Regions from separate parts of the Homo sapiens genome. Here region 1 is linked to region 2. Evidence: fine-mapped expression QTL. Tissue or cell type: monocytes after R848. Region 2 holds a variant in brackets; the other region holds the start of a gene. All regions are shown on one strand. Distances are between the middles of the regions.

What was found.
Region 1: APIP starts here. The variant in region 2 is fine-mapped to the expression of APIP in monocytes after R848 (Quach 2016, PIP 0.95). The same link has a PIP of 0.9 or more in monocytes, monocytes after LPS and monocytes after Pam3CSK4.

The regions. Positions count from the first base shown.
Region 1 is chr11:34,912,373-34,920,713 of GRCh38, forward strand. It overlaps APIP (APAF1 interacting protein), which reads right to left and starts at 4,007. Exons shown (of 7, transcript NM_015957.4): 1 at 3,856-4,007. The coding sequence starts at 3,912. It overlaps PDHX (pyruvate dehydrogenase complex component X), which reads left to right and starts at 4,246. Exons shown (of 11, transcript NM_003477.3): 1 at 4,246-4,443. The coding sequence starts at 4,284. RefSeq lists silencers at 3,668-4,007, 4,028-4,077 and an enhancer at 4,248-4,547.
Region 2 is chr11:34,931,956-34,940,296 of GRCh38, forward strand. The region is part of intron 2 of PDHX (pyruvate dehydrogenase complex component X); the gene reads left to right. Among named protein-coding and RNA genes, the nearest start is that of MIR1343, 5.7 kb to the right of the region's middle. The variant C/T (reference allele first, on the strand shown) is at 4,851.

The DNA.
Region 1 (8,341 bases), 20 kb before region 2:
GCGAAGGTTTTGGTGAGCAAGTCTTCCAAATCTTTATCTCCAATCCAGTTCTCTCTCCTAGCTTGAAAGCAATACCCAGTGTGATGGTTAATACTGAGTGTCAACTTGACTGGATTGAAGGATACAAAGTATTGATCCTAGGTGTGTCTGTGAGGGTGCTGCCAAAGGAGGATTAACATTTTGAGTCAGTGGGCTGGGAAAGGCAGGCCCACCCTTAATCTGGATGAGCACAATCTAATCAGCTGCCAGCATGGCTAGAATACAAGCAGGCAGAAAAATGTGAAAAGGGAGACTGGCCTAGCCTACATCTTTCTCCCGTGCTGGATGCTTCCCGACTTGAACACTGGACTCCAAGTTCTTCAGTTTTGGAACTCAGACTGGCTCTCCTCGCTCCTCAGCCTGCAAACGGCCTATTGCGGGATCTTGGGTTCACGTGAGTTAATGCTTAATAAACTTCCCTTTATATATATATTCCATTAGTTCTGTCCCTCTAGAGAACCCTGCTAAATACACTCAGTGTATAGTACCACATGCTGAGGCTGTACCTCAAACTCAACATGTCCACAACACACCCATCATAAACTGTTTCTTCCTCCTGTATTCTCTTTCTGGTGGACCACCAGGCCCCAATCACTAGATCAGAAGCCTAAAAGTCATTCTTGACTTCTTTTCTCACTACACACATCTAATCAATAACCAAGACCTCCTGATTTTACTCCCTCACTCAGACCTACAGCATCTCTTGCTTGGATGCCTGCCACGGCTTCCTAGTCTGTCTCCATGCCTCTGGTCTTTTTAACTCTAGCCAGCAATCCCCAGGCCTTCTTCAGTCATCCTGCTGATTATCTCATTGCCCTTAGTTTAAAAATCTAAGATTTGCTTAACAGGCCCTTTAGGTCTGGTCCTAGTTTGTCCAGAATTGGTTCCTTCCCGTGGGTTCTTGGTCTCACTGACTTCAAGAATGAAGCCGCGGACCCTTGCGGTGAGTGTTACAGTTCTTAAAGATGGTGTGTACGGAGTTTGTTCGTTCAGATGTTCAGAGTTTCTTCCTTCTGGTGGGTTCGTGGTCTTGCTGACTTCAGGAGTGAAGCTGCAGACTTTCACAGTGAGTGTTACAGCTCTTAAAGGTGGCACGCAGGTTGTTCGTTCCTCCCGGTGGGTTCATGGTCTCGCTGACTTCAGGAATGAAGCCGCAGACCTTCGCAGGGAGTGTTACAGCTCATAAAGGTAGTGCGGACCCATAGAGTGAGCAGCAGCAAGATTTATTGTGAAGAGCGAAAAAACAAAGCTTCCACAGCCTGGAAGGTGACCGAGGGGGGTTGCCGCTGCTGGCTCTGGTGGCCAGCTTTTATTCCCTTATTTGGCCCCACCCACATCCTGCTGATTGGTCCATTTTACAAAGAGCTGATTGGTGGGTTTACAAACCTTTAGCTAGACACAGAGCGCCGATTGGTGCATTTACAATCCTTTAGCTAGACAGAAAAGTTCTCCAAGTCCCCATCCGACCCAGAAGCCCAGCGGCTTTACCTCTCACTAGCTTTTCTCTTTAGCTTCATCTCAAGTCTCTGGCCCCTACTTTATGTTCCAGAACACCAAACTTAATATGGGAACACACCATGTCTGTAATCAAGGACAACCCTGAGATTGTGTACATGCTACTTCCCCTACTTGGAATATCCTTACTTTCATTGCATGTGGTTATGTCTTCCTGATCCTTTAGGCCTCAGTAGATACTTTCACTGTTTCCTGAGGTATTCTCTAACCCATTCAAGTGTATACTCCTAAACTACCTTGAACTTTCCCATCTAAGTCATATCGTCATATGTCAAACTATGTCATGTTGTCATACCATCTTTGTCTCTTTGCTAATTTGTCTCTTCCACTGTACAGCATGTTCTAGGGGAGAAGGAACCAGATGCAGCTTGCACTTATAAATCCACAATGCCTGGCACATAGTAGGCGCTCACTAAATATTCGTTGAATTAATCACTTACAGTTGAACATTCCCCTTCCTTAAGGCCAAAGAGACTGTCTCTTTCCATTGCCCATGACCCCCTAAAACTACAATGAAATTTTATGACTTCTTAAAACTTTTCTTATTGCTGTTTTTATGTATTTGTACAAAACCAGACAAATACAAATATCTAGAGGGGCTCATGTATTTAACTAGATATGCAAATCCAGTGTGAGTAGTGGAAGCTGTGGTAACCTGGCCAGCACCCTCTGTAAAGGTGGTGTTCACTAGTAACCGCAATCCAGATCCCATGAAAAAATAAGGGCCCAATGTCACCATGTGTTCTGAGGTTTTAAAAGAAGCTGAAATGATTCTGGATTTTGAAATGTTGGCTTGGCAGGGCGTGGTGGCTTACACCTGTAATCCCAGCACTTTGGGCAGCTTAGGGGGGTGGATCACCTGAGATAACGAGTTCGAGACCAGCCTGGCCAACATGGTGAAACCCAGTCTCTACTAAAAATACAAAAATTAACTGGGTGTGGTGACATGCGCCTGTAATCCCAGCTACTTGGGAGGCTGAGGCAGGAAAATCGCTTGAACCAAGGAGGCAGAAGTTGCAGTGAGCTGAGATCACGCCACTGCACTCCAGCCTGGGCAACAAGAGCAAAACGTGTCAAAAAAAAAAAAAAAAAAAAAAAAAGGTTGGCTCAAATTTTTCATGAACATTGAGTGCAGCAAAAAAAAAACATGCCTGTCCACCAAGCTGTCTGTGGGCCATGTTTGGTTTGAGAATCCTAGTTTATTCTCGGGTCCCTTAAGGCTCTCTTTGATGCTCATTCTGATGACATTACACTAAGATTTACTGATTGAGGGTACGGACACTTCTCCATACACACTTGCCCAGGAACGATCTCCAGTTACCTGTCCTGTCTCCAAGATCTTCTCTCTCTCATCCAATCTTGCCTATGCAGCATTCTATTTTCAGAGTCGTCTTTGCTAATTTGGGGAAGTCACTTATTCAAACAAGAAAGTGGTTGACAAATGTTTAGCAATGAAATCTCCCGCGAGTTACTACTTTTTAATTAGGATTTTCAACCCTAAGAAAGATATAGATAGGAGGAATAAGATAGGGGGAATAAGGAAACTAATTTTGAGGGGTTTCCCTGCCTCTTAGGTGGGGTTTATCATATTGTGCTGAAACTGCTTATTCGTCTAGTTCTCCAGACCCTGGGCCATTTATCTTACGTATCCCTATCTCTGAGCGTGTAGAAGGCGCTCCATAAAACTGTTGGTTTGTGTAAATGACCGAAAACTACATGCAGCGTGAGGGTGGATTTCCCTTTGACTTCGGCTTAAGGAAGAATCGTTCCCATGATCATCCCACAATTCATCTAAACGGAGATAGGCAAGGAGCAACTGCTCAAAGGCAAAGCGCTGGCAGCTGAGGCACAGCTCCGGTTCGGCAAACGTCTCCCGAGTGCCAAACGTCCCCCCAAACGCCTAACTGGTCGTCAGGGCGCAGAAAAGAAGCTTGGGGGGCGCGGTCTTCGCCCCAGCTCCACTTCGGTGCTTCACGATTCCTTCTCTGGCCTGCCTTCCTGATAAATACCCGGTGAGGTCACCTAAACGCTCTCCTCTCTCAGTTATTTGCTTCTTTCCAACGTTTGGCGCCCAGCTCCCGCCATCGGAGCGCCCCGCCCGAGACCACTGATCTCCTGGGGCCTCGCAGCCTTGCTTCCGAACGCCAAGGTCGCGGTGCGCCGGGGTAGCGAACGGCCAGGCCCGAAACCCCGCCCCGCAGCTAAACGCCCGGCCCGCTACCCTGCGCCCAGCTCCAGCCGCCGGGTCCCGCCTGGGCCTCTCCTCCTGGGAATACCGGGCACCGGTGGCCCCGCCCCTACCTGCGCGCCGCATCTCCGGGAACAACAGTCTCCCTCCCGAGCATCACAGCCAGACATGGCCCAGACCAGGGACCCGCGCGGCCTCCAATCTCCGCACGGCTTTGCGCGCGGCGCTTAGCCTGGGATACGGCAGCGAGGCCGCAAATGCAATCAGGCGGCGCTGAGGGCAGCCCGGGGGCGGGGCGAACGGGGCGGGGGCCGGGGTCTGGTAAGGCCCCGCCGGCTGAGATATCCAGCGGCGCACCTGACTTCCCGGGAGGCAAGGCCAACGTGGTTGGAGGCGGGGCTGGGTTGGGGGGCGGGGGTTCAAGTCTGAGAGACCTAAAGGCACCGCTAGCGTCTGGGGGCGTGGCCAACCATGCGGGAGGCGGGGCCTTGATGCTGGACATCAGGCTGTGCTGCGGGCAGCCAGTGAGAAGGCCGTCAAGATGGCGGCCTCCTGGAGGCTGGGCTGTGATCCGCGGCTGCTGCGTTATCTTGTGGGCTTCCCCGGCCGCCGAAGCGTAGGGCTGGTGAAGGGGGCTCTTGGGTGGTCTGTAAGCCGCGGAGCTAATTGGAGATGGTTTCACAGCACGCAGTGGCTTCGGGGTGAGTGGCCGGGGCTCGCTCAGCTTCTCTGTGTAGCTGAGTGATGGGCCTGGGACAGGGGCAGTTATGATTGAGGGCCTGCTTTTGGGTGTGAAGGTGCGCGGGCTCCTTATTCCCTTTCCTCTTTCTCCGGTTGGGGTCCGCCGACTTGGCCTAATGCATGCTGTGAAGGGCTTTCTTGGCAGCTGAGAGAACTCGACTCTGCCCTAGGCCCCCTGGTTTGTATGGCTTTGTGACCTTGCCTTGGAATTTGGGTTATTTGTGAGGCGCAGAGAGGGTTCCCAAACTCTCCTCCCTCAGCCCCCTTTCCAATCAAGGCTCAGGTTTCTTTAGGGTTGTCAAACGTCTCGGACGAGAAAAAGCTGCCCAAGGTTGCCGAGATTGAAAAGCCACTGTTGGGAGTTCTTACTTATTCTCTAGGCCTCTCTCTGTTAGGAGGTGTTTTCATTGAGGCCAGTCGAGTTTTACCCCACGCCATGACTCGTGGAAGACTTAAATTTGTAAATTCCTACGGCATCACGATAGACAAAGGTCCAGGAGAATGTTTCAAGCAAATATTCGCTTGAAAGAGCAAACATTTAGGAGATAAATCATACCAAAAATTTATTATAGAAAATTGTTGTTTAGTAATGATATTGATGCAGTTAACACAATTCTTGCAGTATTTAACAGTATGCAAAATGGCAGGCCGGGTATTATTTTTCCTTATTTTGGGAGAAGGTTGGAGGGAGGCGGGGATGGAGAATAGGACTGACGTTTTTTAGTGTGACGTATTACCTGCCAATCATCGTTCCTGGCACTCTACAGAATGAATTTTAATTTAAATAGGTCTAGTAGACGTTGCCTTCATATTCTGAGCTACCTTAGGCTCAGAAAAAAAAAATCACACAAAGTCATATGGTAAGATGAGTGTATTGGGGTTCCTAAAGGTTCCTTAATGGGAACAATTTATTTCATTTTTGGTGTAATGTTTCATAACATATTCCTTGGAGCAGAGGTGCTTTAACAGTGTGTGCAGAATTCCTTCTCTTCCCTCCTCCAAGTTTGTTGAAATTAAACTTTTTTCCAGCTCCTAGAGATTCGGTCTGGTCTGGTGTGGGGCTCAGGAATCTGCATTTTACAAATGTTGGATGAGTTTTGATGTTTTATTTTGACATTTAATGGAATGAGCTTTGAGACTCACTGCCTTAGAAAATCATGGAATATTAAAAGTTTAGTATTGGATATAATCTAGGAAGAGTGCTCTTAATCTTGTTTATCAAGCAGATCCTTTTGAGAATCTTTGAAAATGTTACAGACTCTCTGTACAGAGGAAGTACCATAAATGGTCACACACAAAAATGTGCACGTAGTGGCTCACGCCTGTAATCCCAGCACTTTGGGAGGCGAAGCTGGAAGATTGCTAGAGCCCAGGAGTTGGAGACCAGCCCGGGCAACAAAGTGAGACCCCCGTCTCTACTTAAAAAAAAAAAAAGAAAGAAAAAAAGCCAGGCGTGCTGGCATCCCAGCTACTCCAGGGGCTGAGGCAGGAGGATCCGTTGAACCCAGGAGTTAGACGTTTCATTGAGCTATGATCCTGCCGCTGCACTTTAGCCTGGGTGACAGAGTGAGACCCTGTCTCAGGAGAAAAAAAAAAAAAAGTATACATAGGCCCAGTTTAATGCCTTTAGAAACTCAGTTAGGCAAGCAATCCTTATCTGCATCCTCATGATGCTTTTTTACCTATTCCCTATCCCCTAGACATATACCATGAACAACTTGTCTACCCCAGTTTGAATACCATCTGTCAGGAAGAAGGCATGGCATCTCAAGGAAAGCCAAATTAGTTTTCTAGTGCTGCTGCAACAAATTACCAGAAATTAGTGGCTTAAAACAACACAAATTCACATCTCATAGTTCTAGAGGTCCGAAGTCCAAAATGGATCTAACTAGGCTAAAATCAAGCTATTGGTAGGAGCTGCATTCTTTTCTGGAGGCTCGAGACCCCATTCCCTTAAGTTTTCCAGATTCTAGAGGTTTCTAAGATTCTTTGACTCATGGGCTTCAAAGTCAGCAATGGCTGGTTCAGTCTTTATCACATTACGTCACTCTTAATACTCCCCTCTGCCTTCTGCCACTTACAAGGACCCTTGTGATTACATTGGGCTCATCTGGATGATCCTGAATATTTTCCCCATCTCAAGGTTGAGTAGAAACCTTAATTCCATCTTTAACCTTAATTCCCTCTTGCCATGTAACAGCATATTCATAGGTTCTGGGTATTAGGACGTGAACCTTTTGAGGCATGGCATTCTGCATGTGAAGCTGTGGAAAGTATTTGGAAATACTAAGTATTTGGAAGTGTTGGACTTTTTTCCTAATACCGAGCCAAAATATATCCGCTTCTGACTTTCACCTACATACAGATTTTTGTTTTGCCATGCCGAAAACACGTGGCAATCCTTGAACTATTTGTTTTACAAACTGTGAATTTACGGTGGTGTTTTTTCTCTGAGCTTGGTAGAAACTGTAGTTTTATAAAACTAAACAACTATTTGGATTACTGTAAACTATATAAATTAAGTACATTTATTGAACTGTTTCGTCTTTCACACAAATATCTTTAAAAATTTGTCAGTCGGAACTACCTTTGGAGTTTTAATTTCCTTAAGAGGTGCTGGCAGCATTTTTATGAGCTATGACATATGCCATTTTCTTAGCACTTTCTAGAATTTCTCATTCACTTCTCACATAACCTAGTAAAGTTGGCATCATCTGCATTTAGTTGGACAAAAACACCAAGGCTTAGAGAAATTGAGTCTCCTAAAGACATGTAACTGTGTTGATGAACTGAAGTGCATGTATATATTTATATACATATATTAATTTGTTTAACAAATCTTTAATTTGTATCATTCTCTCAACAGATTTATTGAGAATGCAGAGACTATCTTTTTTACCACTTACATTATTGAAGAATGAGTGAAGAAATTAGCATCTATTAGGTGCCAGGCACATGGTACCCTGCTTGGGAAGTAGTGGCCAGCTGAATCAAACAGATTCTCAGTATTTGCCACATGGCACATTTAATCATACTTAGCTCCTGGACATGCAATCCAAAATTCTATATAGGGCTGATCCTTAAGGTATTTGTAGTCTCTTTGGGGACATAAACAATAAAGGTATGATTTCAATAGTGTATACAGTAAGCTCAGAGGGGGTAAGTTTGAAATGATCAGGAAATAATATATAAGGCAGCTTCTTAGAGGAAGAGGTGACAGCCCTTACAGGCTGAAGGAACAGCAGAAACAAAGACCCAGAGACCAGAGTGATCATTATATAATTGACACAGCATCTGTAAACAGTTTTTCAACCTACTCTAGACAGTTAACTTCAGAGAGTTTAAATTGTGGTCCTTTCAGAGTAGGTAGCATGATTTGGAATATAATTGGTAAGATGTTAATTAATAGTATTGGTTTTAAGTTGTCTCTGAAGAATAACATGTTGAATTTAAAATAACCTGTGAATAGAAAAGTAACTGAGGTTCAATCTTGGTGGCGATTTGCCTAGTATATAATTATAGGCAATACATATTATAGATGTTCAATAAACATATCTAAGGAAGCTAGTAATCTAGGAAGTTATAAAAGAACACTAGAGCCTACAGTAGGATTCCAAGTTGGCAGCCAGGGAACTGACCCACATTGTTTTAGCAGAAAAACTTATGGCAAAATTTTAAAATCAGGAGACTTTACAGAGAAATCTAGATTTTTGTTCTCTCTTTAAAATTGATAGTTAAATCCTATGTGGTGACAATTATCTAACACTGAGTAATGATTGTTCTTTTTAGGTAGGAAATTGCTTCCTACTTTGTCACTATGCCGCCTACTCTGTATTACATCTTAGCAAGGCTGAATGT
Region 2 (8,341 bases):
TGCTAATTATTGAAATATAGTATTAAGCATTTCTAATTAAAACTCTGGGATTGGTGCTTAAAAGACAGACCAGTGCAGCTGAGTAGAGAATAAAGAAATAGATGCAGTTGCACATGGAATTTAAGTATATAATAAAGGAAGACAATATTAGATTTATTCTTTATGTTATGTGAAGGATAAATTACAAATGAATTATACACTTAATGTATAAAAATGAAACTATGCAAGTCTTGAATTCCTCTGAACCCGGAAGTGGAATAAACACCCTAACTATAACTCAAAATCCAGATTATAATATGGGAAATAAAATTTGATGGTAAAAGTACTAACTTTTATATGGCTAAAAATACAAGTTAAGTAAAAAAAGAAGTGACAAATTGGACAAGAGTATTTGCGATTTCTATCACAAAGGGTTAATATCCCTAAAAAATCGATAAGACTGTCAACTCAACAAGAAAGTGGGCGATACATGAACAGATAGTTTACAGAAAAATAATTGCAAATGACTCTTACACGTAGAAAAAGACGCCTAACCTTTCAACTGGTAAGAAATACGCAGACACTTTACTGAAATGTCATTTCTTACTGATTATATTGACAGTACTTAAAAAGTTCGACAAGCTGTTCTCTTGATGATGCTGTGGAGGGAAGGGAAGAAGCAGGACTCTCAGACATTGCTGGAGGAAATGCTAAATGGTGTAAATACTAGGGAAGAGAATTTGGCACTATTTAGAAAAATTACATTTATGTTTACCCTTTGGCCCAGCAGCTCTACTTCGAGGGATTTGTCTCAGTGTTACACCAGCAAAAATAAGAATAGACACAAACACACACTAGGCTGTTTATCACAGCACTGTTTGAAATAGCAAAAGGTAGAAACAATCCAAATGTTGGTTAGTACAGGATTTGTTGAATAACTTTTACTGTATCTACACCTGTAAAAAGGAATGAGGAATATCTCTTTATACTGCTATGGGGTGATCTTCATTGAAAAAAAGCAAGGTACAGACAAGTGAGTATAGTATATATCATTTATCAAAGAAAGAGGTGGCAGTGCTAATATTTAAGAAATTAGAAAGGATAAAATAAAACTTTAAAAACAACAATAGTTGGTTATCTACAGAGTAATGGAGGGAACCGTGTGGGGGAGAAACTGGAAGCTGGACTTCTGAATATATCTTGTTTTGTCTCTTTGACTTTGGGACAATATACATATCTTGCACAATTTTAAAACAAAATTAAAGTGTAAAAGAGCCCTAAAGATTGAAACGAGACAGGTGATTCTAATTCATTTTTTTCTCTCTCTTTTTCTCTCTCTCAATTTGCTTACATAACCATACAGAGAGGCACTATTTCAAATGTCAGATGTTTGATTATATGGCCCTAATAGATTATAACTGAAGGATAAAGCGTCTCCAAAAGTATAATCCTCAACTGTTAGAGTAATCGTATTATGCTTGTTATGTTGGTATTGTTATTCTAAGGCTTTTGTGTGTATTTTATGGGATAAAGCAAATGACTGGTTAAGATAATATCATTGGAAACTTGGACTTTTAGTGTAGTTTAAAGGAGAAACAGGTAAAAGTTTCTAAGGTTAGGAACGACCCTGTGATGGTAAATTTTCTAGCTCTTTCCCCTGGCAATGCCTGGAAACAAGGACCAATCCAGTCGCAGTAAGCACCCCTAGAACCCAGACTGTCTCTAAATATCAGTTCCCACTAAAGTAAATGAAGGCTCCTTGGAGAGTAGCTACTTGCAGGCCTAGGGCAGGAGATGTGCAGATGAGCTTTTAATATCTTGTCAGTTCAGAAAGCAAGGAAGCTGTCAGAAACTCCTGAGGGCATCTTAAAGGACTCAGGAGCCAGAGATGAGATAGTTTGAGGATCACTAAGGATAATAAGGATAATATATTTAATATATTTCAATACATTAAATATATTTGAATCCTAAGTTCACAGTAATACTAAAGAAAAAAAATTAATAATAATTGGTTAGCTTTAGAGGGTGCTAAGAAATTAACTCATTTTGAAAACGTAATAAATGGAAAGACTCAAGCATTTTTCTCTACCTCTTCTGCTATATGAACCGTAGCTCTGAGTAACCAAGTAATTGATGAGAAGTTTCTCATTATTAGCATATCACAGTTGTTAAAAGATAGAAGAATCATAGAACATCACTGTATTGCCATTTTGCAATCTCTGGTAAAATAGTATAGCCAGTGATCATTAATAGCTGCTAACATCACAAAAAGAGAGATAACCAGATATTACATGTTTCCCACTGTGAAGTAGTCTTGCCAGAAAATTGAACCAAATATGTTCAAGCCTGTAGCTCTATCATTTTCCAGGAAATACAGGGGAAAATATAACGTGTTCAATGACACCATGAGAAGTATATCAGCAAAAGCTAGACTGAGGAATTCTGTATGCCAGTTTCTTCAACCAATAAATTTCAGGGTGGTAGGGAAGAGCCCGGGGGAGGAAGGTGGGGGAACCTATAGCATACAAGAGATTTGAGACCAGTGCCAATGTATGGACCTAATTTTAATTATGATTCAAGCAAACAAAACACATGCGGACATTTGAAAACTGGCTGGATATTTAATGATATTATGGATTTTTTTTTTTTTTTTTTTTTTTTGAGACATGGTCTCACTCTGTTGCCCAGCCTGGAGTATAATGGCGCGATCTCTGCTCACTACAGCCTCAGCCTCCTGGGCTCAGGGTGATTCTCCCACCTAAGCCTCTTGAGTAGCTGGGACCACAGGCATGCGCCACCATGCCTGGTTAGTTTTTTGTATTTTTTTAGAGACAGGGTCTCCCTGTGTTGCCCACGCTGGTTTTGAACTCCTGGGCTCAAGTGATTCTCCTGCCTCGACCTCCCAAAGTGCTAGGATTACAGGCATAAGCCACCGCACCCAGCATAGGAATTATTAATTTTAAAGGTTTAATAATATTTTGGTTATATTTTGATTATTAAAAAAAAAAAATCTCACCTATAAGAGATGTGAGATGAAATACTTACGAATAAAATGACAGTATCTCTGGGATTAGCTTCAGAATAACCCTGGTTGAGGTTGAGAGGGTAGGGAGGGGTATAACTGAAACAAGATCGGTCATGAATCACTTGGCAGTTGTATAAGTGAGGTAAAAGGTATATGTGGCTTCATTGCCTTTCCTTACCACTTTTGTATAATTCAAAATTTATTTTTTATATATAAATTTTTTTAATATATTTTTTAAAGGTTGTGCATAGTGCTTTCAGGATATAATTTGAGATGAGAAACTAGTACCAGATGAATTGGAATGTTGATATTATTAAGAGAATATTTGATACAATACCATCTATAAAGCTGTATTATGTCACTGTTTCTGGCAACCATTTTGCCAGATTTTAAGTACCTAATATGGTGCTTAGAAAATAAAGACTATGAATAAAAGAGGTGAGTATGTTACAGTGCTTATACAGAAGGATAGAGGAACAGTTAATGTGAAGGAAGCTGGGCTTTTTGTTTTTCTGGCAGCTACTTTCTTTTCCTTTTCTTTTCCCCTTTTTCCTTTGCCATGTGTGGTGGTAGAGTCTCCCCTCCAGGTATTGGCCACTGGATAACCTCTTTTAGCACCCTATGTAGCTGTCTTTCTCTGTGCTTGATTCATTCTGTATCAGGTTAAACTATTGTGGAGGAAAGAGGATGAGTCTACAGTACCTATTAGGGATTGTTAGACAGAAAAATAGAGAAATTAGAGGTGACTGAATGAGTCCCCCACAGCCATTATTATGCGTCATCTGGAGCAATGGTGAATCAAGTGTTAAAAAGGGAAAGAAAGAAGGGAAGTGCAAGTAGAGAATGAATAACATGGTCTGGGGAGGACTTGTCTAATTCCAGAGACTAGCCCTGGCAAGGACTTCCAGGGTATCCTAATGTGATTTAGTAGGCACAGATGTCACTCATACAAATGTTGGTATTGAGTGGTCCAGTCTAGTGCTTGTAAAATAGTATCAAAAGAGTTTAGGCAGTGGGCAGGACACCAGAGTCTGGAAGAGCTGTGTTGTGATTCTAGAAGGTCTAGCCTTTCATAGCATCACTTTTGCCACTAATGACAGATGTGGGGATCAGGAAGAGGGCTAACAAGTATTTACTTGAGAACACTAGCCAAATGAGCTGGGGAGTTTGGGACAAGCAAGGCCTCACTTCTTTGAGGGAGTCTGGGGTGTAAGGAAAGGCAAGAAAAATTGCTGTGGGTTGAGCCACTATGGAGGTTAGGAGGTATGGTGCAGTGAGGTTATCCAAATGAACATTACTGGTCCTTGATAGACCCAACCAAGTCTGTTTGGGCATATTACTTAATTCTGTTCCTCAGTGGGGAATATGTCTGAGTTTGTTCATGTTTGTGCTTCCCATAATGACTAACATCGTAATTGGAATAGAACTGCAGTGCTGTAAGTGGTCAGTTAGTAAAGGTAATGGCAGAGGGGAAAGTAAGCCAAAAGCAGGGTACATGACAGGGATCCAAGAAGGCTTTGCAGATGAGGTAGTATTTGAACTGGTCCTTGTAGAATAAATGGGCTTTTTAAAAATAATGAGAAGGACATTCCAGCTAGAAAAACATGGGTAAACTCTTGGAAGAAAGATGTCACTGAGACATACTTTTGCAACAGCAGGTAGGTCTGGCTGCATTGGGGACATAATGGCTGTAAGATCAGATAGATTATTGGAAGGATCTTGAATGCCAATCTGCAGTTTATCAGTCTGTGAGGGTCCTTATCCTAAAGCCAAAATAGATCCACATTCATGGTTTCTTAATAGGAAGTGGTTTCTTTTCTTTTCTTTTTTTTTTTTTTTTTTTTTT[C/T]TGAGACAGAGTCTCACTCTGTCACCCAGGCTGTAGTGCAGTGGCCCGATCTTGCTCACTGCAACCTCCACCTCCCAGGTTCACGTGAGTCTTGTGCCTCAGCCTCCCAAGTAGCTGGGACTACAGGCGAGCACCACCATGCCCAGCTAATTTTTATGTTTTTAGTAGAGACAAGGTTTCACCATGTTGGCTGGTCTCGAATTTCTGACCTCAAGTGATCTGCCCACCTTGGCCTCCCAAAGTGCCGGGATTATAGGCGTGAGCCACTGTGCCTGGGCAGGAAGTGGTTTCTACATACTTTTCTGAGCCCTATTAGTAGCATTGCGTTGAAAGGAACAGACCCTAAGAGTAACCTGGTATGAGGAGATAACTGTAGGCAATTTAAAGTAGCCTCCTTTTCCTGCTCTCATTTGAAAAGCCAACACTGAGAACTCCTAATCAATGTGATAATCTAAACAGATGGGGTAAAGCATCTGCTCTCTATCGGATATAATATTATAAGTAAATCTTTTCAATGTTAAGTGGTGCTGGAATGCAGAGAAAGGAAATCACCAAGTGTCCCCACATCTGGAGTGGTGAATGGGAGTTGAGGCCATGTGCACCACTAGGGCTGAGCTGGAAGGCTGGAGTTGCTGACTTTTTTTTTTTTTTTTGGTGGCGGGGTGGGTGGAAGGAGCAAGGAAGGGAAATCAAGAATCAGATTAAAATTTGAATATGGTAAGATTTGAAATGCATATGAGGCATTCAAGGGAAGGTGTTCAATAGATAACTGATTATAGGAGTTGAAGTTCAGGAGTGAAGTCTGACTTGGAGACAGAAATTTGAGAGTCATCAGCATGTGGATGGAATTTAATGCCATGTGATAACAGGCAAAATGATTTTGAATCTATATGGAATAAGAATGCCTACTCCCCTAAAGAGTCCTCCTGAGGGTCAAATTTATAGAACTTGCATTTTCTGGGAACCCACAGATAGAAGTGAAGTTGTCCTGGGCTGATCGCCTCCCTGGGTTACCTGGTAGAAGCCATTATTCTGGAAGAATACAGCTTCTAATCCAAACCATACAGAATTTGCAGATAAAGTCTCACCAAAAGTCACAATCCCACATTTAATAACGTATGTGGAAGAAGTCTTTTAGGAGTGAAGTCAGTAGGCATAACAAGCAGCAGGACTGGATCCCAAGAACTTCAGTTAATTGGAATTACAAAAGTCCAGGCAGATTTGAAAAGGATAAACAGAACTTCTAGTAATGAAAAATATAGTCTCTCAAATTAAAACCCCCCAAACCTCAAGGGTGGGCTGAAGTGTGATTAGACAGGACTGAATGAAGAATTTGTGAACAGAAGGACGACTAGAGGAAGTTAGGTTGCATGTAGCACATAGAGACAGCACTGGAAAATATGAAAGAGAAGTTGACATATGAAGGGTAAAATGAAAATTATTCAATAACCCAATAGGAATTTCAGAAGAAGAAAAAAAGAGGGAAATGGGAAGAGGTAATTTTCAAAGAAAAACATGGCAGAGAATTTTCTAGAATTTAAGAAAGATATGTGTAATGTAAATGAAAGAGCCAGTACCCCATTGGAAAGCATTTAGAGCAATTGGCTCTGCATGGCTGCTGCTATCTTTTAAAATAATTGTCAGTATCTAAGAAAGTTTTACCTTTATAAATAATGTAATCAGTTGGAATGTGTTTTTAGGTTTCTTTTCTCTGATGAATTACAGAGCTTTGGCTATTTCCATATTCGATATGACAGGGTGTTGGTGTCATTAAATAATGATTCAGACACAGAACAGTCTTTTAGGGATTATTTTAAAAAGATTAACTTTCTTCACACTTTGAGAATTTATAGGTAAGCAGATGAGGGGATTCTTGGGCCACATTTATCTTTCAGACTTCCAGCTCACTGGCAATCTAATAAGTTATTCACACCCGTTAGAATATGAGCAGTAAGATAAAGAGCCAGCAGACATATGGTCTCATTATTCTGTTCTTTTTTCCTTTTGATTACAATATGCTATTTTCATGTAGGACAGGCCAGGATGTATTTTAAGTCCCTGGAGCATGTTTCCCTGAAGGTTGCTCTTAAAATTCTGTGTTCTGCCAACTGAAGGGAAATTTGTTTTTGCCAAAACACAGTAAATAATTGAGAGCAATCTTAATCCTTGGTTCTTAGTGGTTCACTGGCTTCTTTTTGAAGCTCATCACCTTTGTGATTTGTGATCTTTTGAGTATAATTGGCTGCTTTTCATTAACACTTATTTACTGTATACATGGGTGTCAATATATGTTTAAGTATGCCTGGTTCTTGGTACATTTATGATAACTTGCTCCATTCATTTTATATTAAAAACAAATTTATATTCTGACAGCATACTTTTCATATATTTTTTCTCTTATTAACTGTTTTTTGTTTGTTTGATTTTTGAGATCTTTTTAAATGTATGGTCACCATAAAACAATGAGTTTAAACCTTTATGCATTAAGAAAATTGATATTTTTCATGAAAAATGATAGTGTTGCATCGAATTATGAATCTAGTTTACTTCTAAGCGAAGACTAGATAAGTATTTGAGAACATTCAATGGACAGCAGTTCAGTCTTAAAAACCATTAAGTTTTTTCAAAGATCTGAGACTGATTCACAGCTTCTTTTACTAATGGTGTGTGTGTGTGTGTGTGTGTGTGTGTGTGTGTGTGCACTTGCATGCGCGCAGCGTTTTACACCAAGGAGGTAAGGGTGCAAAGAAAAAACTCTGGCCCAGGAATCATGGTTTTTCCTTTGGGGTTCCTCCTCTGCCATGAACTACCTGGGAGTGAGTTGAACTAGCTGAAATCTAAGGTACGGAATATCCTGGATTTATAATTCTATGATAACTCATTTTTATTTTCTTTTTTTAAGTAACTGAAATATGCAGTATTATAGCATATAAATTATTTCCGTCTTTGTTGAACTCATGATTCTAAGAAAATAAGTTTTATAATGACTATTAGAGTACTTCATTTCAGTCTGAGGATTGACTAAAACCTTATATATCATAAAATTAGTACAGAAAATGCTCTGAAAGTGCTAGGTAACACCCACAATTTCAAAATCTTTTGAAAGGTCAATTGAGCTATCATTTGGCATTTTTATTACAAGTTTTTTATTTGGAGGGGGCATGTGCTTCAGATATTTTCAGTTTAAACTGCACCTAGTTTATTTTTTCATCAATTGAACTGTCAAATCTGTTAAAATAACAGAAAGGAAAAAAAATTCTTGTTCTCCTTTTGTAAGAGAATATTTGAGGTTATGAAAAACCTTGTTTTTTTTCCTCAGAATATTTGAGATTTTTCTGCTCTGCCGTGAAGCACTATGGAACAAAACCAGGCTAAGATAATTCCATCAAGCACTTAGCCACACCCACAGTGCCTAGAATGTACGTAGTAAGCATGCTTAACAGTGGTGCTTGTTGCTGCGGTATTCCTTATGTCATGAGACAAGGGATTTT